7 linked regions of the Homo sapiens genome follow. The protein of the gene in region 6 interacts with the protein of the main gene of each other region in a pairwise test. Each region holds a gene or a part of one and is shown on either strand. Other genes may lie near its edges. The genes, in order: SYS1, GOSR2, CTXN3, BNIP1, TMEM167B, TM4SF19 and UBE2J1.

Evidence for each region.
Region 1: the proteins of TM4SF19 (region 6) and SYS1 interact in binary tests that used the Homo sapiens proteins (3 or more experiments, as listed by UniProt).
Region 2: the proteins of TM4SF19 (region 6) and GOSR2 interact in binary tests that used the Homo sapiens proteins (3 or more experiments, as listed by UniProt).
Region 3: the proteins of TM4SF19 (region 6) and CTXN3 interact in binary tests that used the Homo sapiens proteins (3 or more experiments, as listed by UniProt).
Region 4: the proteins of TM4SF19 (region 6) and BNIP1 interact in binary tests that used the Homo sapiens proteins (3 or more experiments, as listed by UniProt).
Region 5: the proteins of TM4SF19 (region 6) and TMEM167B interact in binary tests that used the Homo sapiens proteins (3 or more experiments, as listed by UniProt).
Region 7: the proteins of TM4SF19 (region 6) and UBE2J1 interact in binary tests that used the Homo sapiens proteins (3 or more experiments, as listed by UniProt).

Annotation. Positions count from the first base shown.
Region 1 is NC_000020.11:45,366,156-45,369,709, reverse strand, and holds the end of SYS1 (protein SYS1 homolog), read right to left. Parts: intron 2,836-3,554; coding exon 2,595-2,835; 3' UTR 501-2,594; downstream 1-500. UniProt on the Homo sapiens protein: Involved in protein trafficking. May serve as a receptor for ARFRP1.
Region 2 is NC_000017.11:46,929,660-46,933,159, reverse strand, and holds part of GOSR2 (Golgi SNAP receptor complex member 2), read right to left. Parts: intron 2,062-3,500; coding exon 1,953-2,061; intron 1,094-1,952; coding exon 961-1,093; intron 1-960. UniProt on the Homo sapiens protein: Involved in transport of proteins from the cis/medial-Golgi to the trans-Golgi network.
Region 3 is NC_000005.10:127,647,848-127,651,881, reverse strand, and holds the start of CTXN3 (cortexin-3), read right to left. Parts: upstream 2,801-4,034; 5' UTR 2,494-2,800; intron 140-2,493; exon of another isoform or gene 61-139; intron 1-60.
Region 4 is NC_000005.10:173,147,531-173,151,030, reverse strand, and holds part of BNIP1 (vesicle transport protein SEC20), read right to left. Parts: intron 1-3,500. UniProt on the Homo sapiens protein: As part of a SNARE complex may be involved in endoplasmic reticulum membranes fusion and be required for the maintenance of endoplasmic reticulum organization. Also plays a role in apoptosis.
Region 5 is NC_000001.11:109,093,764-109,097,434, forward strand, and holds the end of TMEM167B (protein kish-B isoform 1 precursor), read left to right. Parts: intron 1-653; coding exon 654-736; coding exon of another isoform or gene 737-816; 3' UTR 817-3,171; downstream 3,172-3,671. UniProt on the Homo sapiens protein: Involved in the early part of the secretory pathway.
Region 6 is NC_000003.12:196,331,889-196,335,388, reverse strand, and holds part of TM4SF19 (transmembrane 4 L6 family member 19), read left to right. Parts: intron 1-3,500. UniProt on the Homo sapiens protein: Negatively regulates vacuolar (H+)-ATPase (V-ATPase) activity by interacting with members of V-ATPase V0 complex and hence inhibiting V1-V0 complex assembly. Required for multinucleation during osteoclast differentiation.
Region 7 is NC_000006.12:89,335,723-89,339,222, forward strand, and holds part of UBE2J1 (ubiquitin-conjugating enzyme E2 J1), read right to left. Parts: intron 2,822-3,500; coding exon 2,737-2,821; intron 2,589-2,736; coding exon 2,483-2,588; intron 1-2,482. UniProt on the Homo sapiens protein: Catalyzes the covalent attachment of ubiquitin to other proteins. Functions in the selective degradation of misfolded membrane proteins from the endoplasmic reticulum (ERAD) and is essential for cells to recover from ER stress.

The sequences.
Region 1 (3,554 bases), on a different chromosome or scaffold from region 6:
GGATCATTGAGCCTGGGAGGTTGAGGCTATGATGAGCCAAGATCACACCAGTGCACTCCAGCCTGGGTGACAGAGTAAGACCCTGCCTCAAAAAAAAAAAAAAAAAAAAAAAAGGAAATCTCTGGCTATATTTAATGTACTGCATATCAGCTTTTCTTAGAAAGCTAGTAATGTTTATAAAGTACTATTCATCCTCGGTATTTAAAAAAATTGACAGGACAAGAAGATATGATTATAAGGTGATAAACTATTTAACCAGACTGTTTAGCCAGTCAGAACTTATACATCCCTAACTACTGACCTCTTCAAAATGAGCTTATTAATATCACTATTAGAGCCCAAATCCTGGCTCTGCCAGCTCCTAAAAAGTCACCTTGGGTAAGTTCCTTACAGCTCCCTCATCTGTAAGATACAGATGACGTTACTTCTTACTTCAGAGGGTTCTTGTGAAGATTTTGAAAAGAGACATAAAGCACTCAGCCCACACTGCTGGACACCTCTTAAGCACTCAATAGATGTTATTTATTATTAAAATGACAAACATGTCACTGCCATTGCCCTGCCCTCTCTGGAACTCAACTCTAAAAACTGCTTTTATTGTTACTTTAGAAATCATAAAAATCTCATTAAGGTCACATATTTTTGATCCCCAACTACCATGCAGCTCAGTCTCCATATTACTGAAAAAAAGTTTGGATCACGTGACTTTTGGCCATTTCTAAAAATCAAATTAACACTCAGGGGACAGAGATTTGTCATCACAGAAGATATGCAGAAAAATAGGCACAAGACCTTGAAGTGAATCCCAAAGAGGCGCTCCAACCACAGATGGAGTAACCACCACCACGGCTGGTCAAGGGTGACAGCAGCCACATGATGGGTGTTCTTTCAAAGTTAGTCACATGCCTGCAGTTTGTGTTGTCTAGAGGGAAATTGATTAACCCAGGGAAGGTCATCCCAGCTGGTCTTACCTCCTAGACCCTGCAGCCAGGATTACTGTGCCTCATTAACAAACTGCTTCCTTCCAACTTGGCCAAGGTACCATGAGTTACTGAGGTGCCTCACCCTAGAACCTTCCCAGTCTCTTCCCAGGCATATTTATTCCTAAATCTTCATCCTGTCAGCATCAACTCCCTACTCTGTAGGGCTGAGAGTCAGGAGGTCAGATGAGCTTCTCAGAGAGATAGCAAAACTCATTTGTGTTACCATAAACTCATTTGTGTTACTGACAGCTGAAAACTGACAGCTCTCTTGGGAAAGCTCTGAAGAAACCAAAGAGGAACAGTGAAGGTTTCAATGCGGAAGTGGGTCTAGACTGTGTGCCGCTCCATTGAACATGTTCAGAAATCACTAGCAAGTAGGAACGGAAACCCAAGAATTATGTGGTTCACCTGAGGCATAGCAGGGGACGCTGCAAGTGAAGGAGACAGGATGTAAGAGTTCCCTGCACTGAGTATTTTAACCAAATGGAGGAATGACTCTGGGGTCCAGGAAAGGGAGAAGGTGGCCTAATAATTCTTTAAAGTTCCCTTGCCTGGCTGCGCTGATCTCTCTCAATCTCAACCGTGGCATTACAAAGTAAGTGCAGGCAGAACCATGGAAAATACTGTATTTGTATACACAGGAAGGATAGCTGCAAGCCCCTCACAGAGGAAACTCCACCCCAAAGAAAAATCTTAGCAGCAAATTCCTATCTCCCTCAGCACTATCAGCACAGCCCAGGCCAGAAGGTTGGGCTTCTTGTCTCTGGGAACCCATCATACCCTTCCCGCCAAAGAATTCTAAATAAGGCAGGAAAAAAAATTGGAGTCCAGTGGGAGCTGGGTGCCTGGTCATTCCTAGAAGACAGGCAGTGTCTTTATGATGGTTAGACTTTGAGCAACGCTGGGATTCTTCTCTGGGTCCTATGGCCTGCTATGTTGAGAGCTGGCAGCAGGATGGGGACCTGGTAGAAGGAACTGGAAGAAAGTCATAGGTTCTTGGGTGCACATGAACGTGTGTATAACAGGGCACAGGTTGTGCATTTTCCTTGTGCTTGATGCCTCCATCTGCCATCCTCTCCCTGACAGCAGCCTAATACTTCACACCTACATTTCTTTCTGTGGCTCTGGATCCGGAAACCAAGCGTTTCTCCAACAGAACTGCTGTGATTCGGCAACACTGCAAAGGTAACTGCTGTGATTCGGCAACACTGCAAAGGTAACAGCTGTCCCAGGGGGGTAAGACAGATGACTAAAGAAGTGGTTTGCTCCAATCAGATATCCTTGATTTTTTTTCTCTCTTAAAACAACAGGCTGGTGACAGGTATTGTGGCTCAAGAGTGGCATGGTTCCAATTCTGTTATTACCCTCAAAGAGGTCCCCTTCCTGACCTCTCAGATACCAAGGCTTCAACAGACAGAGGTCATTCTTGCAGCTGTCATGCTGACTGCTACCTGCCTTCTTTGACAGGCCCTCACTATCTCTCCCAAACCAACAGAGACTTCACATTTCCAGGGTTCCTCTCAGATCTGGGCTGGACCTCATCTGGAGGGTCTGAGCAGCCCAAGGTGTTAAGGGGCCCAAGTGTCAGCAGGATGTCCAAAGGGCCTGATTCTAGACATTGGATTTAGGGGCTGAGTTGAGGGGTATCTCCTTGAGCTCCGTCCGCATGCACAGGTACTCCCCGATGACAGCCATGAGTGCAATGCACACGGCTTGGACCAGCCACCAGGTCAGCGCCGAGGGGAAACGGGAGCTGTAGAACCAGCAGCCCAGGAGGTGAAAGAAATGGACAGTGACAGTGAAATCCAGACACTGCTTTCCTCGCCGGATGAAGTACAGCAAGCCCAGGGCACTGTGGGGAGAGGACAGCAGTGAGTTGTCACTGGGTTGTCCTGGCCTTAGGTTATTTGGGAGGGTAGGGACAATTAGGACGGCAGCATAGTGGTCAGAAGTGACGAGATAAGTGTGAAGCAAGGGTTATGATACCAGACGCCTAGAAGAACCTGGCGGGTAATGTCAAGAGTGAAGCTGACTGAGTATGAGCTTGATGATCGATGGCAATTGTCACTAGGGGATCCTAGGAATTGGTGGGGATCATGACACCCTGAAGCATACATGTTCTAGCTAAAGGGGGGCAGTAGCTACTTGCATCTAGGCAAATCTTATCATGCTAGAAGGTTGGCCTGGAATCAGTCAGTCATTCCATTATTCAAGAGAAGCCAGAAATCTGGATTTTTATATAAAATAGCCTGATTTTCAACTAAGTGAAAAAAATGTTTTAAACACCATGTGTGGGCTGACATCTATGTAAGCCAAATAGAACCTATCTGGAAGACAAATTTAGGTCAAAGTCAGCCCACCAGTTTTCAACCTCCGGTGTAAGGACAAGAATAATAATAACATGCAAGGCACTGTTCTAAGTCCTTCTTGTGAATTAACTTATTTAATCCTTACAACTATGAGGTAGGTAATATTACTAGCCCCATTTTACTGATGAGGCAACTGTGGTAGATTAACTTGTCCAAAGTCACTAGACTAGTAGTAAAGCTGAGGTTCAATGCCAAATGAGTC
Region 2 (3,500 bases), on a different chromosome or scaffold from region 6:
GCCTGAATACTACATTATAACGATCTAAAATCCAAACATCTTTTAGTGTGTCTTATAGTTCATTAAATTTTTGAACTGTTAAACACTGTAACTTGACTGCTTAGTCTGGGGAAGCAAAAACTATGTTGGCACAGCCTGAAACACTTGGGAAAATTTATTGCAAAGCAAGGATGCAGCATTGAGGGTTAAACATCTACAAAGCAGGAAATGATGTGAATTTTAACAACTGGCTTAGAAAGCTAACATCTCTTTAGAAAATAATCCTCTGTAAAAAAACAAAATACAAAAAGCCAAAGCACACTTCATTTAGTGGAATATATTATGCAGGACACAGAAAAGGCCAGTATGTTCTACAGCCATGTGCAGGAAATGATCTGGTTAAGACTAAAGGGCAGGGACAATGGGTTCTGAAAAATCAAACATGCAAACCAACACACTTTCAGACAGACTCAGGCAAGCAGTCCATCTAACCCTAAACATCTGTTAACAAATTCCTCCAAATTGCTGCTCAGACTAGGGGCAAAAACATCTTAATGCACCTGACACTGGAGCCACACACATACTCGGCACAATGGCAACTGCCCGCAGGCAGCTTTGAAATGCTGCCTTCTCTACAAATGGCCTAAGTTCTAATCATCTGTCTCTATCTGATCAGAAAAACGTTTCCACCATGTGAACTTCCACCTTTCTGTCTCAGACCAGCCCAACCAGGTAATTTTCACCTCTGCCTATTCCCCTTCAATTTAACTGCTTCCTCTTCAGGTTTTTGTCTTAGAAAAAGGGATTCTCTGTCTAGGTCTAGTCTCTGTGGCAATGCACAAAGTTCCTGTCATTTCCAGTTGGTTTCCTCATCATCAGTCTTCTTCAGACACCCCCAAAACAGATGGCGCTCAGAGATCTGAACTCCAGCCCCCACGATCTGTCAAGTGCAGGCCGACCCTCACCACGGGCCTGGCTTACGTTAGTGGTGAAGGTTCGAGACAGAAGCTCTTCTCGCTGTCTCTCCTGCTGCTCCCTTGCATGGCGCCGATGCTGGAAGTTTCTGAGCGCAGTCTGCAGGTGCTGGACATCATACTTTAACTGGTCAACCCGACTGGAATTGATGGAGAGAGAGATTAAATTCCAGGAACTCAGGGCAGCAGAATCTGAGGGGGCCAGGCTTTGTACTGAGGAAAGACGGCGTTTCCTTACTTCTCCCTACACCACCCCACACTATACCCCCTCACCACAAGATCTAATTTTGATCAACGATGTTGAAAGTCAAGAAGAAACTTGTGGTTAAAGTGAGATGGTAGCACACAAGATTCCAGCAGCTTGACTTCAGAATCTGTTGCTCTGATTCTGGATGCATGACAGAGAACAGGGGACAGGAAGCAGGCTCACTGACCTCTTCTTGACCTTCTATGGATTATATGGCTCTCCTGGAAGAAGCCCAAGGGCATCTTTGAGGTAAAGCATCCACAAAGTTTCATAAAACTTTTGGAAACAGGCGCTGGGGGTGGAGGTGGCAAGGGTGGTTTCATTTTAATTTCATGCTGGAGTATCAAACATTAGATCAGCATTTCATTATGGGTGGACTGATTGAAGTGATTTTTCATTTCAACCCAAGAAGAACCCAGCAGGAACCAAAGAGCAGAACAAAACTCCATGGCAACATTAGGCTTCAGGTGGCTATGGATCTAGTCAAAAAACAGAACTGGAGGCAAAATTTCAAAATGACACCAAAGAGGTAAGGGGTCACAAGGTTTCTGAGTCACAAACCTCACAGGCTATTTATTTTGAGCGGCATCACTCAGATAGAATTGTGCCCTTTGAGGGGGCTTTTTCTTTGCATAGTCATAGTTTTTCAACATGTACGTTGGTTTTCAGAATATTCTATCACCTCCCCCAGGGAGAAAAGCCTGTCTTGATGGGCCTGGAGTATCAGAGCCATGTCAGAGGTCAGCACTTACAGTCTGGCATTTTGCCTTTTGTTAGGGGGCTCCTTGCTGGACAAAATCTCCAGACGTTCTAGACGGCTGAATATCTGGTCTATGCTTGCTTGGATTTCGTTTTCTACTACTGTACAAAAAAGAAAAAAGAATAATTGCTGGAAAAGAGATAGTGAACTTAAATTACAATGATAAATCACAGATTTTTTTTTCAATATCCAATAAACTAGAACTACATATTTCAAAAGGAGAAAAATGTATACACTAATGAATAACAGAAAAAATTCAAGTTAGGCCGTAAATGTTGTTTTGAAAAAAGTACATGTATATAGCTGTTAATGACATAACAATGCCAATTTTTTAAAAAAGCTGAAGGTAAATCTGTAGAAATAAATTTCCTACCTTTAGAAAATAAACATGCAAAGGTTGTCCAAATAAATACTTTAAGCTAAATTTTCTGATATAGGTCTCTTTTCCTTTGGGATTCTCAGACGTGGATTATAAATACCTAGAAAAAGGCTGCCAATTGAATTCCCTATAGTAATGAGTTTTTTTTTTTTTATTTAAAAAAAAAAAAGCATAAAGGAAGGGGAAGATTAGTATGTGAAACATACAGAGAAGAGTTCCCTTAAGGCTTTCTTCCCTTAAAGCTTTCTGTAAGAATGGGTGGGCTGAGCAATGTTGACGTCCCCAAAATAAACCAAATATCAATAGGAAAGGCCCAGGAAAGAATCCACAGAGGTAAAGAGATACGATAAATACGGTCATTTTCCCTATCCCTTTCGATAAGACAGTCAAAATGACCTCTTTCCATTTCTAATCATGTAACAATGAGATTGCTGAGAAGGCAAACAAAGTCCGATGAACAAAGAAGCTAAACTGTGCACAAAAGAAAGCATCCAGACTGCTTCTTGCCCCATAAAGAAGTGACAGCAGTGACACTGCCCCTTCCTAGCCCTTTGTGCCCACAGTGAACAAAGACAGTTGAGATTAGAACAAGGTGGGGCACAGAACCAAGAACAGAGCTGCTTTTGAAGCTGCGAAAGGAGACATGAGAGAACAGGAGGAATGGGTCCTGAGGGAGCCCAGCAGTGGGGTGGGTAGGCAGCCCCCGCAGGTGGTGTCCATATGACCAACTCAGAAAAAGGACCTTTCCTCAGAATAGAAAAAAAAAAAAAAAATGAAAAAAAACAAAAAACCAGCATGCTTCTCAAAAGAAACCATGCTGTGGGAACTAAACTAATTAATATTGCTGTTCGTTTCTGAATAATCCTCCTAAAAAGCCACAGTTCTCAGCTCAGAAGAAATGGCCAATTCCAGTTAAACATCTCTGAATTTTTATGGAGTACATTCCTCTAAGGACTAGGTAATTAGATTAAGATAGATGGAGGCAAGCGCTTCCATTCCCATAGGGCCATGTCAGGTTGAGTGGAGGGGTAATGGGGGATAAGACTTGTGGGATTCCAAAGGGCACACTCAGGGAAATCAGTGACTTTGCCATAGGGTTTTTCTGTCCACCCTAACAACAAAACTCATTCCACGCTGAATCATTAAGCCCCCAAGGCAGAG
Region 3 (4,034 bases), on a different chromosome or scaffold from region 6:
TTCTCTGAAGAAAATGTATCTTAAAGCAATGACATGTTTCTTTTCTTTTTTTTTTTTAAGTGACAGCGACAGAATTACTTAAGTGCATTGGACACCTTGTTCTGTGGAGCCACACACAGGGACTTGATTCTACAGGTCATCAACTCAAGAGCCCACCCTTTTGCAATAGGGTGCAATGATCTAATTAATAGTTGCAGTACCTGTGTAGTCCTGCCTGGCACATAGTGGGGATTTGATAAGTAGGTGGGGATGAATGAGTGTTTTCTTTTTACACCATTTTTGTGCAAAATGTTATTTATTTTTAATTTCTATTATGTGATCAAGCACACTAAGGTATGAAAATTATAAATAAACTGCCCAGAATTATAAAAATCGTTACCAAAAAGGTAGCACCACCCCCTACCACCCCAACGCCAAATGATGGTAGATCCCTAGTTTTTCACTGGCACGTTGGAATGAATTGAAGGTGTCATCCCTCAGGTGTTAACGGCCTGTAGGGTGCAGTGAAGCAATGCTGTCTGTATTTTAAATATTCCTAAACCACATAATTGCAGTACCTAATTTTTAAAACTTCTGGATCAGAAACCTAGTTACGTGACTTGACGTGGTTTCAAAAGTAGGTGTCAAAACAGCCCATCCATTGAGCAAGGACACTCTTGGGCTTGTCCAGTTTCCATTCACATGTGATAGACAGGACACTTTATCCTGCAAAGATATACTATCAACCTTATTTATATTTATCTGGCAGACTAGCGAGACCAATCTTTAGACTTTAACAGGAACGGAATTGCCTAGCTAGGCAGGACTGAATTTGCGGTGACCAACAGAGACAAACTTACTCAAAATGCTGCATTATTCTGCAACAGTTCTGAAGTTAACTGTGGAAATGTTAACATGGCTTTGAATGATTCAAGTAATACACATCCTGATACTGAGCCTAAATAGAATCCCTCTCTACTTTTAGCACTAAAGGAAGCCTGGGCTGCATTCCTGTTTGTATAACTGTAGTCTCTCAAAGTACATTTCATTCTCCAACCCACTCACCCACCCTAGATGTGTAAATCTCCCAAATGATCCTATTATCCATCCCCACCACAACTGTGAGTCATCTGTATAAGCCACCTCGTTATCTAAGCAACAGAATCACCACATAAGCAAATATTATTCCCCTACAAATCTTTTAGAAATTCTGTGTATTATTCTAGTGAACAGTAACTTGCATTCAGGATATACACACAAAGATACAAAATATTTCATATAAATTCAAAGAATTCATGGCCCTCTTGCTTACCAGCAAAGAACTTCAGGTAAAGATTTCCTGGCTCTTTCTAGGTGTTTCATAGATTTTAAATCCTCCCACTCCCCTTGTTTTTGGCTCATATACACGGCAACATCTCTATATTTTTTTCCAAGTACAGCCCTCCTGTTCCAATACAATAGCCCTGATGCTTCAAAATTCAAAGGGGGGCTAAGGGTAAATATATTTTATACTCTCAAAACATAGACTCAAGTCTACTAGAAAGCCTACGAACAATGATTTCATAAACATGAGGATGTCTTCAGCTACAGATGTCAACAGGCAGTTTCAGAACTGTTGCCAGCCCCCACTGCTGCACTGGGAAGTCTGTTCTCTGCTTGTTTCTGCAAAGTCAGCCTGCAGACACGTCTGCTTGGGCTGGGAGTGGACCCTGTTATTCTCAACTCACTGCTGCTTTTAAGCTCTGGGTCAGCAGGAGACCTTTGTCTTCAGCCTCAGCCCCAATCTCAGCTTTACTTCTTCCCCATCTTCATCTTCCTCTTAATATCTGCTTGAGGAATTTTTAAGGGACTGCAGGGCAAGGCTACTGCCTAGCTGAGAACATCAGAAAACACCATGAGGGTGCCTAGTCAGGAATCGGTGGTATCAGAAGGCACCCTTAACGAACTGGAACTTTTAACTTCAAATAATAAGCCCTACTGTTCCACCTGGTTTTCTTTGTCTTTCTTTGTGTGTTTCATAGTGAAAACGGCTACTTGCTGATATCTCAAAAGGATAGTGCTGCACACAGCTTATCAGCCAGGGACAGTCAACGCTGTCAATATGAGTGGTTGAGTTGTGATCCTTTGTAAACAAATCAGAACATCCTTGTTACATTTTGGAAGGTTGGACGTTTTAGGTGACTGAAAAAAAAAATACGATAATGGGCAAACAGCTTTCAGAAATAAATTACTGCAGCTTAGGAAAGAAAAAAAAGCCTGTTTTACTACTTCTTCATCCAGTATCAATAACATTATAAACTTAACCATGCTTTAAAAATAAAGGCATCATTACATTTTACCCCCTCGCTTCTTAACTTTATCTAGCAATTGTTTAATTAGACTTATCTAACAGCTAGATCTAAATTCACAACTATGATCCGAAAGGCATGTATGCGATGATTGCTCATGCATCAATTGTAAAGTTAGAGAAAAGCATTTAATTAGCCCGTCAAAGATACAGGTTGGGTCAAGTACCTGGCTCTGGCTGAACAAACACTTGATCCATTTCCTGGTGGAACAGTTACAGGTAGTTACAAGCCTCTTTAGTTTCCATTCTTCCCGACCACGCTGTGTGAAAGCAGTAGACAGTGGTAGCTGCAAGGCAGCTGATGGCACACCCCAGGTCTAAAGCTGTTGTTTCAGGCTTAGAAACTTCCCATTAAAACCCCGAGTTAAAGGAGCATCGTCTTTCTGTGTGAGGCATCATTAACGGCCAATACTGCTGCTTCTTTGAGGTGAGCCATGATTTCAGTTCTGCCTCAGCAACTCTTCAGAGGATTCTGCTTCAGCGAGTAGAGGCAGTATCCTAGCAGTGTGTCTGAAATCATCTTCAAGAAAGCATTAACATTCAAAAGGAGTACGGGGTTGGGGGGTGGGGAAACATCACAGGCATTCCTATACCTTTTCAAAATCAAAGCCATAAATCTACCAGTGCTCTGTCCTCTTTATTGATTGTTGACACTATTCCTCTTTGGGAGTGTCAATTAGCACGTCGCAGCAAGTCTTCATATTGATTATTGTTGATGACCTTCAGGCCAACTCAATTAACAGGAAGACTTCTGGGGAAGGGCATCAACTTAGCATTTGGGAGAGGGAGAAAAGGCTCATTTTCCTAAAGAAAACTAAAGTGACCTTTCCAAAAAGCAGCATTTATGGGAAGGAAAGAACCATTTAAAAATATCAAAATCATAGTTTCACCACCTGTCACCTGCTTGTAAATTAGCTGGGCAGTTGGTTGCCAGGTCCAGTGTCTCTCTGAGCAGCCTGCATAATTGTGGCATTGGGAAAGCCCCCACCCCACACAGGGCACCTGAGACCACTCGATGAATAAAGAAGATTGATTTTTGTGAGAGAAAGTTGTTCTCATTCTGCAGATTCTAGTTACTTGCTACAATGCTTAAATTACTTTCGTTGGATAAGTAAATTTGGAAAATATTTTAGGATAAAATTCTTCATTAAAAAAACACTTCTCTAAGAAGAATTCAGCCTAATGCTTAAGACGGAGCATCCTTGTTTTTTGGCAACTCACCACTTTCTTTGTTGAAGTGGCGGCACAGTTAGCGACAACACACCCACCCACCAAATGATGGGGTGCGTGATATTTAAAGCTGCCTCTGACTGTGCCTGTCAGCTATGCTGTCTCCTCAGCTCTTGTGAGCAACCGGCCATTACCCAAAGGCTCTAGGAAACTGGAACCAAGCTCATCTTCTAAGAGGGAAACCCCATCTGCTCACAACGGACCACAATCCTGGATAGGATAGGCCTCGGACCCCAAAGGAACCTTTCAAATCAAATGCTAAATGTTAGGATCGAATGCTTGATGTTAGAGTCTAACCTCAAGACAATATGCAGGTTCTTTCCCCATTTGTTTTCCTAATTTTTAACTGAATTTTCTTTCCAATTCATTTTACTTACCCTATTTTCAGACACACACATACCACACACCGTAAGACAATGGGACACATGAAATCCAACTGAGCACGATCATCCTGTACTAACTGGCATCCCTCTTGCAT
Region 4 (3,500 bases), on a different chromosome or scaffold from region 6:
ACTCCGTCTGTACTAAAAATACGAAAAATTAGCTGTGTGTGGTGGCACACACCTGTAATCCCAGCTACTTGGGAGGCTGAGGCAGGAGAATCGCTTGAACCCAGGAGGTGGAGGTTGCAGTGAGCAGAGATCACACCTGCACTCCAGCCTGGGAAACAGAGCCAGACTCCGTCTTAAAAAAAAACAAAAAAACAAAAGTATAAAGTTTTTAAAAGCTGTGTGTTAGTATGCTACTTTTTAGATGAGAAACAAGGAAGAAATTTTAAAAAAAAAGAAATTTGTCTTTTTAAATATTTGAGTAGAGAAACTCTGGAATGACATATCAGTAACAAAAGTGGTTACCTGTTTGGAAGAGTGGAACAAAAAACAAAACTGGGGCATAACTGAGACTTTTCACTGAATGTTGATACTTATAGACAGACACATACATAAAACATGTAAAAGGAACATCTTTTCAAAAATAAAAAATTAAGATGATTAAATCAGTACTGGAGATGAAGGCAGGAAGAGATCAGCTAGGTATGGTGACGCTGCTGAAAATCATATAGTTAACTCCAATAGCAAAAATTACACATTTTCAAAATTGCCCTTGAAAATCTCTGAGGTAGGCAAACACAGGACACAGACATACTGTTTCTCAGGGGTCCAACTGGCCAGCTTTTCTACCAGCTTTAGAACAGACTGTCTTCCTCTGTTAAGCAACAACAGAGTTGCTGGTGGGCTTTGGGGGCCATGTTATATGAAAAGCACAAGTCTTTTTTTTTTTTTTTTTTGAGACAGGGTCTTGCTCCGTCACCCAGGCTGGAGTGCAGTGGCACAATCTTGGCTCAATGCAACCTCCAACTCCCAGGTTCAAGCAATTCTCATGCCTCAGCCACCCAAACAGCTGGGATTACAGGCACGGGTCACCATACCCAGCTAATTTTTATACTTTTAGTAGAGATGGAGGTTGACCATGTTGACTAGGCTGGTCTTGAACTCCTGGCCTCAGGCGATCCACTCGCCTTGGCCTCCCAAAGTGCTGGGATTACAGGCGTGAGCCACTGTGCTGGCCAAAAAAGCTCAAGTCTTTAGACCTGATATAGTCTGAATATTTGTCCCTGCCCAAATCTCATGTTGAATGGTAATCCCCAGTGTTGGAGGTGGGGCCTGGTGGGAGGTGTTTGGATCATGGGGGTGGATCCCTAATGAATGGCATAAGTCATCCCCTTAGTGGTAAGTGAGCTCTCACTCAATCTCTCTCTTGCTCCTGCTTTTGTCATGTGACATGCCTGCTCCCTTTGCCTTCTGCCATGACTGGAAGCTTCCTGAAGCCTCCCCAGAAGCAGATACTGCTATGCTTCCCATACAGCCTGCAGAACCTTAAGCCAATTAAACCCATTTTTTTAAATAAATTACCCAGCCTCAGGTATTTCTTTACAGCAATGCAAGAAAGGCCTAATACAAAACCCCAATACCACAAGACCAGGTGCCACAAGACCCATCCAGGGATGGTGATATGGTTTGGCTGTGTCCCCACCCAAATCTCATCTTGAATTGTAACTCTCACAATATGTCATGGGAGGTACCTGGTGGGAGATGATTGAATTACAGAGGTGGGTCTTTCCTGCACTTTTCTCATGATAGTGAATGAGTCTCATGAGATCTGATGGTTTTAAAAACAGGAGTTTCCCTGCACAAGCTCTCTCTTTGCCTGCTGCCATCCATATAAGACGTGACTTGCTCCTCTTTGCCTTCTGCCATGATTGTGAGGCCTCCCCAGCCATGTCAGAAGTCCATTAAACTTCTTTTTCTTCCCAGTCTCACGTATGTCTTTATCAGCTGCATGAAAACAGACTAATACAGATGGGCAGATCCATGACACCCACCTCACCCTCACTGAAGGTACAGCAGGGGAAACATCTCCACTATTCAAACTGCTACTTCTAAGAGACCTCCAGAAGTCTAGAGGAGCAGGCATGTTTCCACACTCAGGTACCTCCTGACTCTCCTAGGTCCCACTAGGGCAGAGTAAGTGCTAGTTCTCTGCCAACCCAACATTAGGTCCTGTGGCTGCAGTGAGAAGAATTCCAGGAGAAAACTCAGGAATAAAAATGGAGAACGTAAGACATCAGACTGAAATTACTAGAAACCCTCAGGAAATAAAGAAGGAAGAAGAAACCAAGAAACCAGAAAAACCATCAGAACAGTAATCAACCCTTGGAGTGACCAGGAGATCCAGAGTTCCCTAAAAGAATGCAATTATCTCAAATTTGAATAACTGAAGAAGAATCATGAACAATATAAAGCAACTGCCTAGTGCTTCAAGTAGAGGGGCATGAAGAGGAGCCGGCAGGAATGTCTCCAGATAATGACAAGTTTGCAGGACTTTTACTGAACTACTCATGAGGCTAAACAGAGGCCAAGGAGCCAACCCTGTTCCTGTCCTCAGGGAGAGGGCCTACACAGGATTCCAGGATACAGATGGACAGCATCTTTTTAAGTGTGCAGATGCAGTCATCCTTCCAACTCCTGAGTTCCAGCCCTGGGCCTGTGCCATCCCTATTCACTTTGAGGGGCTGCTGTGGGCCCCTCTACCCATGAGCTGCATGCAGGATCCTTGGATGCCCAGATGGCAGCCTTGAAACATGACCCCTCCATAGTCAGCTCCATACGTGTTTCCTCTCAGCAGCCCCCAGACCCACAAGTGGTCTTCATCCTCTGATTCTGATCTAGATTCTGAACTTGGAAACAATTAGAAGCTGAATCCCAATTCTGTCTGAAAGCAACACAATAGTCTGGGCTCATGCCTGTAACCCCAGCACTTTCAGAGGCTGAGGCAGGAGGATTGCTTGAGCCCAGGAGTTTAAGACCAGCTCAAGCAACATAGAGCAAAAAATCCATCTCTATTAAAATATATATATATATATATATATATATATATATATATATATATATATATATATATTTTTTTTTTTTTTTTTTTTTTGACACAGAGTCTTGCTCTGTCACCAAGGCTAGAGTGCAGTGGCACGATCTCTGCTCACTGCAACCTGCACCTCCTGGGTTCAAGCGATTCTCCTGCCTCAGCCTCCTAAGTAGCTGAGATTACAGGTGTGTGCCACCATGCCCAGCTAATTTTTGCATTTATCAGAGACAGGGTTTTGCCATGTTGGCCAGGCTGTTCTCAAACTACTGGCCTCATTTTCATTTTTAAAAATGAAAGCAACAGAATAACATGATCTATACAGTGGTGCACAACTCTTTGCCCAGCCCAATGTAATAAGAATAAAATGTGAAATAAATAAAACAAACAAACATAACTGCTACTTGTCACCCTCTAGTGTTTTTTGAGACAGCACATATACCATACTTGAATTCAGGCATACTAAATGTGTATATGATGTGACTGGTGACTATTGAAATAAGGAAGATGCTGAGCAAAGTAACAGCATAAAAAAAAACCCAGGAGTGTGATGGATTGAGGTAGTGAATGAATGAATAGGGTAGAAAGAATGGCA
Region 5 (3,671 bases), on a different chromosome or scaffold from region 6:
AAATTTTTTTTTGAAAAAGGACAAAATATAAACAAACAGTATATTCACCTAGACCCTAAAGCATAAGGATAGCATTTAGAAACATCTCAGAGGCCGGATGCGGTGGCTCATGCCTGTAATCCCAACACTTTGGGAGGCCGAGGAGGGCAGATCACCCAAGGTCAGGAGTTCGAGACCAGCCTGGCCAACATGGTGAAACCCTGTCTCTACTAAAAATACAAAAATTAGCCAGGGAGCCGGGCACGGTGGCTCACGCCTGTAATTCCAGCACTTTAGGAGGCCAAGGTGGGTGGATCACCTGAGGTCAAGAGTTCAAGACCAGCCTGGCCAAGATGGTGAAACCCCATCTCTACTAAAAATACAAAAATTAGCTGGGCATGGTGGCAGGCGCCTGTAATCTCAGCTACTCAAGAGGCTGAGGCAGGAGAATTGCTTGAACCCGGGTGGCAGAGGTTGCAGTGAGCCGAGATCGCGCCACTGCACTCCAGCCTGGCCGACAGAGTGAGACTGCCTCCAAAAATAAAATAAAAACATCCCAGGCCCTTGAGAGCGTTGATATGTCTGTCTGTGACTAGAGACTTCAAAATATCACCTTGAAAGTGAGGACTTCGGTGAAGGGCAGGGTGTGATTTCTTCTCTCTTTTGCCTGCTAGCCGCTGTGATTGGAACCAGGCTGCATGCTGCTGTGGCAATTGCTTGTGTTGTAATGGCCTTTTACGTCCTGTTTATAAAATGAATTCCAAAGCACCCAAGTCATCAACTGCCAACCAAGGGGACGGGGATGAAGAACCTGTTGGAGACCTGAACCCAGTGTAGGAGAGTTCAGCTGAAATCATCGGTCCCCAGGATGACACCACAGCATCTGCCCCTGCTATATGTGGGGAAAACTCATGGTCACGAACATTATTTATGCTTCAGGGGACTACAGAAAGCCAGCTTCCTTTGATCTATGTGTAAATCAGTCCTTGGCAGAGTGCATATAATGTCCGGATAAATTACACCCCTCGGTGATAAGATTACATACCTCCTTCATAAAAACCTGTCATCCTGTTTTGTTCTTCAGCTCCTCATCAGGATCTTTTCAAACTGAGGCTCATTAGGGAAGGAACTAGGCTGTGTTCAGACTTCTTTTGAAGAGAGAGAATTTTCAAGACTTCTTTTCACTCTTTGATTTGGATCTGGCAAATTGGGGAGGGGATGCTGGGTGGGAAACAGTTATGAAATGCCAAGAAATTCTTTGGCTTTAGAAATTTATCTTTCATGTACCCATCCGGGAACATAAAAGAGAGGCATAGTGCTCATTGCAAAAAGAGAACAGATGAAGTAGCTGTGTTATGTGCTGGTATCTTGAGAGTTTTGCCAAGAAAATCTGGGCCTACATAAAATTTGAGAATTATCTGTGTGATGAGACCAGAAAGCAGTGGCTTAGACAAGAAAAAATCTTTCTGTTCACCAGTATCCTCAAATGGAGACTTCACTTGATCAGATGGTATATGAAAAATGAATCAACTATTGCTATTTCGTAAAACCTTTTTATATTTTCTAAATTTACTTAGTGCTAAATACTGTTACTCAGTTTTAAATGCCACGACTAGGGGAAAAAGAAACTATTGAAGAAATAATTGTTTAGTATATTTGCAGTTGGGGTAGAAGAAAGAAATCTAGTATATTGATTCATATACTAGTAAATTCATCTAGTATAAGAACTTGTGATGTTAGATTGAAGTTTTGTCATCTTATAAAAGACAACAAACTTATTTTCTGTTTAAGTCTGAGTGTTATGGCAATTTTTAGTTGATTACTTATTTTTCTTAGCCAAATTTTAATTTTCTTCATATTGCATTGCTCTTTAGTTGTCTCTGGAAATTCTATTTACTTTAAGGACATGAGAAATTCAAATGAGAGAAGTTGCTGATATTCATCAGTGTGTTTGGACAGTTCATAGGGTCCACAAATCAAATGAGGTTGTTTCCTGAAGTAGAAGAAAACAGAACTTTGCAATTGATACTGAAGTACTTTGCCATGGAGTTAGTAACTCCTGAGCAGACCATTTTAGATGGCTCAGCATTTGGCAGGAAGACTTCTCCATTCCCTGCTTATATCTATGGAAGGATCAGCTGTTGGATGTCTAGAACTTCTCTATTTAAAAAAAAAGAGTAGGTCTAAAATTAAATTATTATAAGCAAGCATAGACATGGGTCTTCCAGTTGAATTGTCCATTACCGTAAAACTTAATGGTGGACAAGTTAGCTGTGGTTGATTCCTGTGTGGCAGTAAATTGTCTTCTGTCTGCTTACTCCAAATAATAAAAGCTGCTAGGAAGTTTAGATTTTGAAATAGGCAGTTTAATGCTTTGAGGGTTTCTAGAAATACAGAAAGTCATCAAGTAAACACTGCATGTCTAATCATCTCAGAGTTGTGGCTGTTATCTCTTCAGGAATTGGTCCACAGGGTAAATTTCAACAATTCATACGTTTTCCATTGTCATTTCTGAGGACCTTTGAGATGAGAGAAAGGAAATCTAGTGGAACAGGAAAGAGAGTTACACCTTGTGGGTGTGAGTTTGGGACCTGTTGGCAGAAGGGAATGTCACTCCCTGGAAACAGGTTCAGCATGTTTGCACTTGTTATTTTGTAGCTTTAATGATTTTTGTTTTCTAATAGGGCAAATGTCTCTAAGCTTGGTGTTTAGAGCTGCTTCATATTTTAAACTAGTTCCATTCCACAGTTCTAGTTCAAACCAGTTTTTACAGCCTCCTGGGTGGGTCGTCTTGACCCAAACTCTTGTGTTGTTACATTTTGAGAGGTTTTCATACCAGAATGTACCAAAAAGTGCACAAGGTAAAGGTAATTTACAGCCAGAAACAAATATACATTTGTTTCATTTCTTGACTTTCCCTAAGCAGATAAGCAGAAACTTGTTTAACTCATTACTTTGTTTGATGTGTCTTACATATTTTTGACTAAAAGTTATAGAATGTTATTCCTCTGGGGGAATCTTTTACAGGTGGAGGAATGGGGATAGCAGTATTGCCTCAGATTCAAACTGGCATCACCATAAACCCTGTAGGCCAGGGTGGAATGAAGTCAGCTCCTTTTTATAGTTGAAATACAATTTTTTATTCACCATTGTCTGCACAAATCCTTGAAAATAAACCTTTTTTTCCCTACAGTCTTTGTCAATTTATTTGTCACATGCTGAATTTATTGAAGTTTGTTCAGTCCTCCCCTGGGTTCAGTTCATAGCCTACCTTTTTAGTTCACATTAGTAAATACCATCATTCCTGTTATCCCATTGTGAGAGCATTGAATGTATTATATAGTTAAGAATCTATGATGGCCTAGTTTTCTCCTTTAGGGCAGCTGAGACAGATATATCTAGAGATATCTATAACTAGATATATATATGTATATATGATATGCTGAGATATATATAACTAAATATAAATGCATGTAGTAAGTTTTCATATATATACGAATAAGATATTCATATATATGTGAATGAATAAGTATTGAGGTATATGAATGAAATAAGGTAGATAGCACCCCCAATACATTCCATCTGCTATTGCTATTAAAATACAAGTATCATCTGCTCTAAACAGTCATAAACATCTTCATTCAAATGAAGTTAACAAGTTAACCAGCCAGACACCTAGAAAATCCTTGAGC
Region 6 (3,500 bases):
GCACCCCTCCCCTCTCCTACCCCCACCCTCCCAGTGCACCCCTCCTCTTTCCTACAACCCCTCCCCAAGCACCCCTGCCCTCTCCTGCCCCCACCCTCCCCATGCACCCCTCCCCTCTGCTACCTCCACCCTCCCCGTGCATCCCTCCCCTCTCCTACCCCCACTCTCCCTGTGCACTCCTCCCCTGTCCTCTGGCCACCCTCCCAGGGCACCTCTCCCCTCTCCTACCCCCACCCTCCCAGAGCACCCCTCCCCTCTCCAACCCCCACCTTCTCAGGGCATCCCTTCCCTCTCCTACCCCCACCCTCCCAGTGCACCCCTCCCTTCTCCTAACCCCCACCTTCTCAGGGCATCCCTTCCCTCTCCTACACCCACCCTCCCAGTGCACCCCTCCCTTCTCCTAACCCCCACCTTCTCAGGGCACCCTTCCCTCTCCTACACCCACCCTCCCAGTGCACCCCTCCCTTCTCCTAACCCCCACCTTCTCAGGGCACCCTTCCCTCTCCTACACCCACCCTCCCAGTGCACCCCTCCCTTCTCCTAACCCCCACCTTCTCAGGGCACCCTTCCTCTCTCCTACCCCCACCCTCCCAGGGCACCCCTCCCCTTGTCTTCTTTACCATAAGCTACAGTCTGGCCGGGTTTGGTGGCTCACACCTGTAATTCCAGCACTTTGGGAAACCGAGGCAGGAGGATCACTTGAGACCAGGAGTTCAAGACCAGCCTGGCCAACATGGTGAAACCCTGTCTTTACTAAAAATACAAAAATTAGCCGGGCATGGTGGTGTGCAGCTGTAGTCCCAGCTACTGGGGAGTCTGAGGCAGAACAATCGCTTGAACCGGGGAGGCGGAGGTTGCAGTGAGCTGAGATCGCGCCACTGCACTCCAGCCTGAGCGACAGAGTGAGACTCTGTCTCAAGAAAAAAAAAAATTATTTATCCTGGACCGGGTCTGTTTCTGAGCTCCAGCCTGGGAGACAGAGCAAGACTCCATCTCAAAAAAAAAAAGAAAAAGAAAAGAAAAGCTACAGTCTTGAAAAATGGAAAACACCCGACTAAACAAGTTTCTAAAACAATTCTGAGTTCCTAAGTCGTAAAACTGTTTTTAAAAGGATATGTTGAAGATGAAATATAGGATAGTAGTTCCTAGGAAGGAATCCAGAAAGAAGGCAGGATTGGAGAGGGCACACCTGAGTGTCAGTGATGTGATGGGTAATGACGTATGTTTGATATTGGTTGTGTTTACATGGGTGTTAATTATCTCACACAAGTTACAAATATATTTTACACATTATGTTTAATTCTTTTTTAATGCAATTTTTTTTTTTTGAGACGGAGTCTCGATCTGTGGTCCAGGCTGGAGTGCAGTGGTGCGATCTTGGCTCACTGCAACCTCTGCCTCCCAGGTTCAAGTGATTCTTCTGCCTCAGCCTCCTGAGTAGCTGGGATTACAGGCGCACACCACCATTCCCAGCTAAGTTTTGTATTTTTAGTAGAGATGAGGTTTCGCCAGGTTGGCCAGGCTGTCTTGAACTCCTGACCTCAAGTGATCCACCCGCCTCGGCCTCCCACAGTGCTGGGATTATAGGCGTGAACTACTGCACCTGGCCTTTAATGCAAATTTTAAAAATATAATTTCAACTTTTATTTTAGATCCGGGGATACATATACAGGCTTGTTCCGTGTCTATTGTGTGATGTTGAGGTTAGGGTATGAGTGATTCCCGTCACTCAGGTAGTGAGCGCGGTACCTACAGATAGTTTTTCAGCCCTGGCCCTCCCCCAATGTTTAATTCTTCATGCTGTGAAATATTTCATTATTTATGTGTGATGTAAAGTAATCCCCCCTTAACTGAAGCTTTGCTTTCCAAAGTTTTAGCTATCTGTGGTCAACTGCAGTTCAAAAAACTTACATAAAATATTTTCAATGAGAAAGACCACATTCACATAACTTTCATTACAGTATGTTGTTATAACTGTTCTATTTTATTATTATTGTTGCGAACTTCTTACTATGCCTGATTTATAAATTAAACTTTATTACAGATATGTATGTATAGGAAAAAGCATAGTACAGACAGTCCTCTACTTATAGTGGTTTGACTTCTAAGTTTCCAACTTTACGACAGGTTTCTAGGGACCTAACTCCATCATCAGTGAACTCCTTACCCTTTATGATGGGATTACGGTTTCTACTGAATACTCATTGCTTTTGCACCATCACAAAGTCAAAAGTAAATTGGGACTGGGCGTGGTGGCTTACGCCTGTAATCCCAACATTTTGGGAGGTGGAGGTGAGAGGATCACTTGAGGCCAGGAGTTTGAGATCAGCTTGGGCAACATAGTGAGACCCTGTCTCTATAGAACTAAAACATTAGCCAGGTATGGTGGCGCATGCCTGCGGTCTCAGCTATCCGAGAGACTGAGGTGGGAGGATCACTTGAGCCCAGATCAGGGCTGCAGTGAACAATGATTGTGCTACTGCACTCCAGCCTGGGTGACAGAGCAAGACCCTGTCTCAAAAAAAAAAAAAAAAAAAAAATTGTAAGTTGAACCATTGTGAGTCAGGGACAGTCTACTGTGTTGCCAGCATTAAATGCCTTTTGAACTTAGGATATTTTGACTTACAACGGGTTTATAGGAGTTCGACCCCATCATAAGTGGAGAAGCATCTGAATATACAGAGTTTGGTATGATCTGTGGTTTCAGGTATCCGCTGGAGCTCTTGGAACATATCCCCTGCAGATATGGGGGACTATTGTGTGTGTGTGTGTGTGTACGTACACACATATATACGCACATTATACATTATATGTATATGATATATATGTGTGTGTGCATATATATAGAGCCTCTGATCCATATCTTTTATATATATATATATTTTTTTTCTTCCCTTCCCCTTCCCCTTCCTCTTTCCTTCCTTCCTTTCCTTTCTTCCTTCCTCCCTCCCTCCCTCCCTCTCTCCCTCCTCTCTCTCTCTCTCTTTTGCTCTGTCACCCAGGCTGGAGTGCAGTGGCGTGATCTGGGCTCACTGCCACCTCTGCCTCTCGGGCTCAAGCGATTCTCCTGCCTCAAGCTCCTGAGTAGCTTGGATTACAGGCGCACACCACCACGCAGTTAATTTTTTTTTTTTGAGACCGAATCTCACTCTCTTGCCCAGGCTGGAGTGCACTGGCGTGATCTCAGCCCCCCAGGTTCACGCCATTCTACTGCCTCAGCCTCCCGAGTAGCTGGGACCACAGGCACCCGCCACCATGCCCAGCTAATTTTTTTGTATTTTTAGTAGAGACGGGGTTTCACCATGTTGGCCAGGTTGGTCGGAAACTCCTGACCTCGTGATCCACCCACCTCAGCCTCCCAAAGTGCTGGGGTTACAGGCGTGAGCCACCGTGCCTGGCCTCTATACACATATTTTCTGATTAGGTGCAAAGCAGTGTGTTATAGGCGTGTCAAGAGCCTCAAGTGGCCAAGTGCAGTGGCTCACGCCTGTCATCCTAGC
Region 7 (3,500 bases), on a different chromosome or scaffold from region 6:
ATACTGTCCTTGAGATCACATATAACAAACCTATTTTAAGGCTGTGAAAAAAGTCCTTTAACAAGATCAAATTATCTGTTAGCAGAAATATATATAAAGCAGTAAAGAAACTAATTAAACATAGAATTTACAGATATTTCTAGGGAAAAAAAAACCCCTCACAAATAGCAGTATAACTTGAAAGACTTGGGAGAACTTGCAGAAAATCCAAAGACTTAATTTATTGCTGATTATACATTAGGTAGAGACTCAGGATATGTCTGTTAACTAGATTATTTTCTAAAATATATTTGTTTTTCCATTTTTCCCTTTGTATTCCAGATATAGTCAAAACTTCCTTGAAGTTTACAAGAGTCCTCTGAGGATATGAATGACTGAAAGTAAACATGCATCATATATAAAACATATATTGTTACACTGTTAAACTTCCTTCTAAAAAATTGTTTTTCATAGTACTTCTAGTTCTATTAAAAAACCTTAGGTCTTGAAGAACATGCTATTTAAAATTATGAAATATCATATAAACAAAATATATGTAAAAGTAGCAATAATTTAGTTTTTCTGTTTGTTTGTTTGTTTGTTTGAGACAGGGTCTCCTCGTTCTATCACCCAGGCTGGAATGCAGTGGTGCAATCATGGCTTGCTGCAGCCTCAACCTCCCAGACCCCAGTGATCTTCCCACTTCAGCCTCCCAAGTAGCTAGGACCACAGGTGTGTGCCACCACACCCCGCTAATTTTTATTTTATTTTATTTTTTTTTTTTATTTCATTTTATTATTATTTTTTTTTTTGTAGAGACAGTGTCTCCCTGTGTTATCCAGATTGGTCCAGAACTCCTAGGCTCAAGCGATCCTCCTGCCTCAGCTTCCCAAAGTCCTGGGATTACAAGCATGAGCCACTGTGCCCAGCCTAATTTAGTATTTATTGATGAGTATTTCTTGTTTTACCAGAAGTGGCACTGTTGACCACACACCTTTGAGAATTGGTTATATACAAATTATTTGCTTCAAAATGTATTCACTTTTAACTGAGTCAGATGAACCTTAAGGGGAGTGTTTATTTTGAATGTATTAGTTTATCCACAATGGTAGCATGCTACCACGGTTGAATGCAAAAATCTTTGTTTTTTTTTTTTGAGACAAGGTCTCAACTCTGTCCCACAGGCTTGAGTGCAGTGGCACAATCATGGCTCACTGCAGTCTCAACCTCCCCAGGTCAAGCAATCCTTCCACCTCAGTCTCTAAGTAGCTGAGACTACAGGCACGTGCCACCACGCCCAGCTAATTTTTGTATTTTTTTGTAGAGCTGCAGTTTCGCCATTTTACCCAGGCTGGTCTCGAACTCCTGAACTCAAGCAATCCACCTGTCTTGGCCTGCCAAAGAGCTGGGATTACAAGTGTGAGCCACCATGCCCGGCCCAAAATCATTTTTTAAAAGGTTTCTATTATAGACTGAGAATCTAGAATATACAGTGAGAAGCCTAGAAGAACAAGAACTCCAGTTCTTTTTTTTTTTTTTTTACCTCGCACATGAAATCAACTGGATAAAGGCATCAAGATAAAAAAACCAACGTAGTAAATCGAATGAAAACAAATACTATGTATTCAAAGTACATAGTGTAATCTATGAAGAGCTGTATAAATAAAGTACATACCCATAGTTTGGAAATAAGGTTTAAAAAGAAAAGTTGCTTATAAGACCAAGAAGTCTACCAAATCTTCCAGATGCTAAAATCTAACTGATTTAGCAAATATCTGTAGAGGGCCTACTCTGGGGTGTGCTAGGGTAAAATATGATATAATTTAATTAACATAATATGTCTGAAGGGTGGTAGGCAGCAGACTCCAGAGCAGAAAAATTATCAACATCAAAAATTAGGTATCAGCACTACTCAAAGAGGGGCTACTCTGAATGGAAGGACTGATCTTGGTCATATAGACAAAAGTGCACCTGCACCTGAAAAAAACAGAGAAGGCATCACTTCTCTGTTTGTGATTGCCACTGGGCAATCACAACTTGATAAAATCTCTTTTGCTTTATTCCAGATCATTTATTAAGCACTTGCTATGAGCTAGATGCAAAGATGGATAAAGTGGATTACCTCTTGGCCCTCAAGAGGTTTGTAATCTTGTGGAAAGCTACAAATAATTGCTCTGGTTCTTTTCCATCTATAATGCCATAGTGGAAACAAATGACTGGTATTGTTTTCCAGGAGAATATATCTCCCACTGAATTTTTTAAAAATAGTGAAATAGTATCAACTACTTTTTAAGACTAGATAGCATTAAATAAATTACTTAGATTCTGGTCACTCCAAGGAAATTATTACAACTGAATTCCTAAAAGAGCAAAACTGAGATAAGATCCTGTAGCTACAGTCACTCAGAAAATAAGTCACATAGTAAGAGGTAGGCCCTACCTCCTAATAGCCATTACCCTGAATACTATTCAGACCTCAAGAAGAATGAAATGCAAAACTTACTTTTTGGCAAGTGCTCTTCTTTCCTCAGGAGTGTAATCTAGAGAACCTATGGCTCCCTCTCCTTTTGTTGGCATAAACCCAATGATGGCTAATAATGCTGTCCTTACTGAAATAAAAAAGTAAATATCAATCTAAATTGCTTTGTAAAAGCAACTGGGTTTATTCTGGAAAAAGAAAAAATCAGAGTATTATACTTCATAACTATGAATTGACTGAAGTTATGAGATTTATATTCACTATAAATTAACACTTACTACTCCACGAAGGCTGCCAAGTTTCAGGATGATGGCCTGAGATGCTCAAACAGATTTTCTTGCCCACTTCAAATCGACCATTAGCCTGAGGAATAAACAATGCATTTAGAAAATTAAATACATGTGCTTAATGTTTATACTTTCTGTAAAAATATACTATTTATATATAATAATTTTAGAGATTATCTTAAAAAGTTTGTTTTTTTTTTTTTTTTTTTTTTTTTTGAGATGGAGTCTCGCTCTGTCACCCAGGCTGGAGTGCAGTGGTGTGATATCAGCTCACTGCAAGATCCACCTCCCGGGTTCACGCCATTCTCCTGCCTCAGCCTCCCAAGTAGCTGGAACTACAGGCGCCTGCCACCAGGCCTGGCTAATGTTTTGTATTTTTAGTAGAGACGGGGTTTCACCGTGTTAGCCAGGATGGTCTCGATATCCTGACCTTGTGATCTGCCCACCTTGGCCTCCCAAAGTGCTGGGATTACAGGCATGAGCCACCGCGCCCGGCCAAAAAGATTTTTTTTTAAATGTAACCTCTCATGGGACACAGATTTTTTGTCCTTATAGACTCCAAAAATACTTGTTGGATGCTGAATAATAAAAGCTGTTTTTAGAAGGTGTTTTACAGCACCTTTTGAAACTGAGTTGCACAAGTGAAATCTAAATAATTAACATGTAAAGTTTTACTGGCCAGCGAAGTGGCTCACGCCTGTAATCCTAGCACTCTGGGAGACTGAGGCAGGAGGATCACTTGAGGCCAGGAGTTC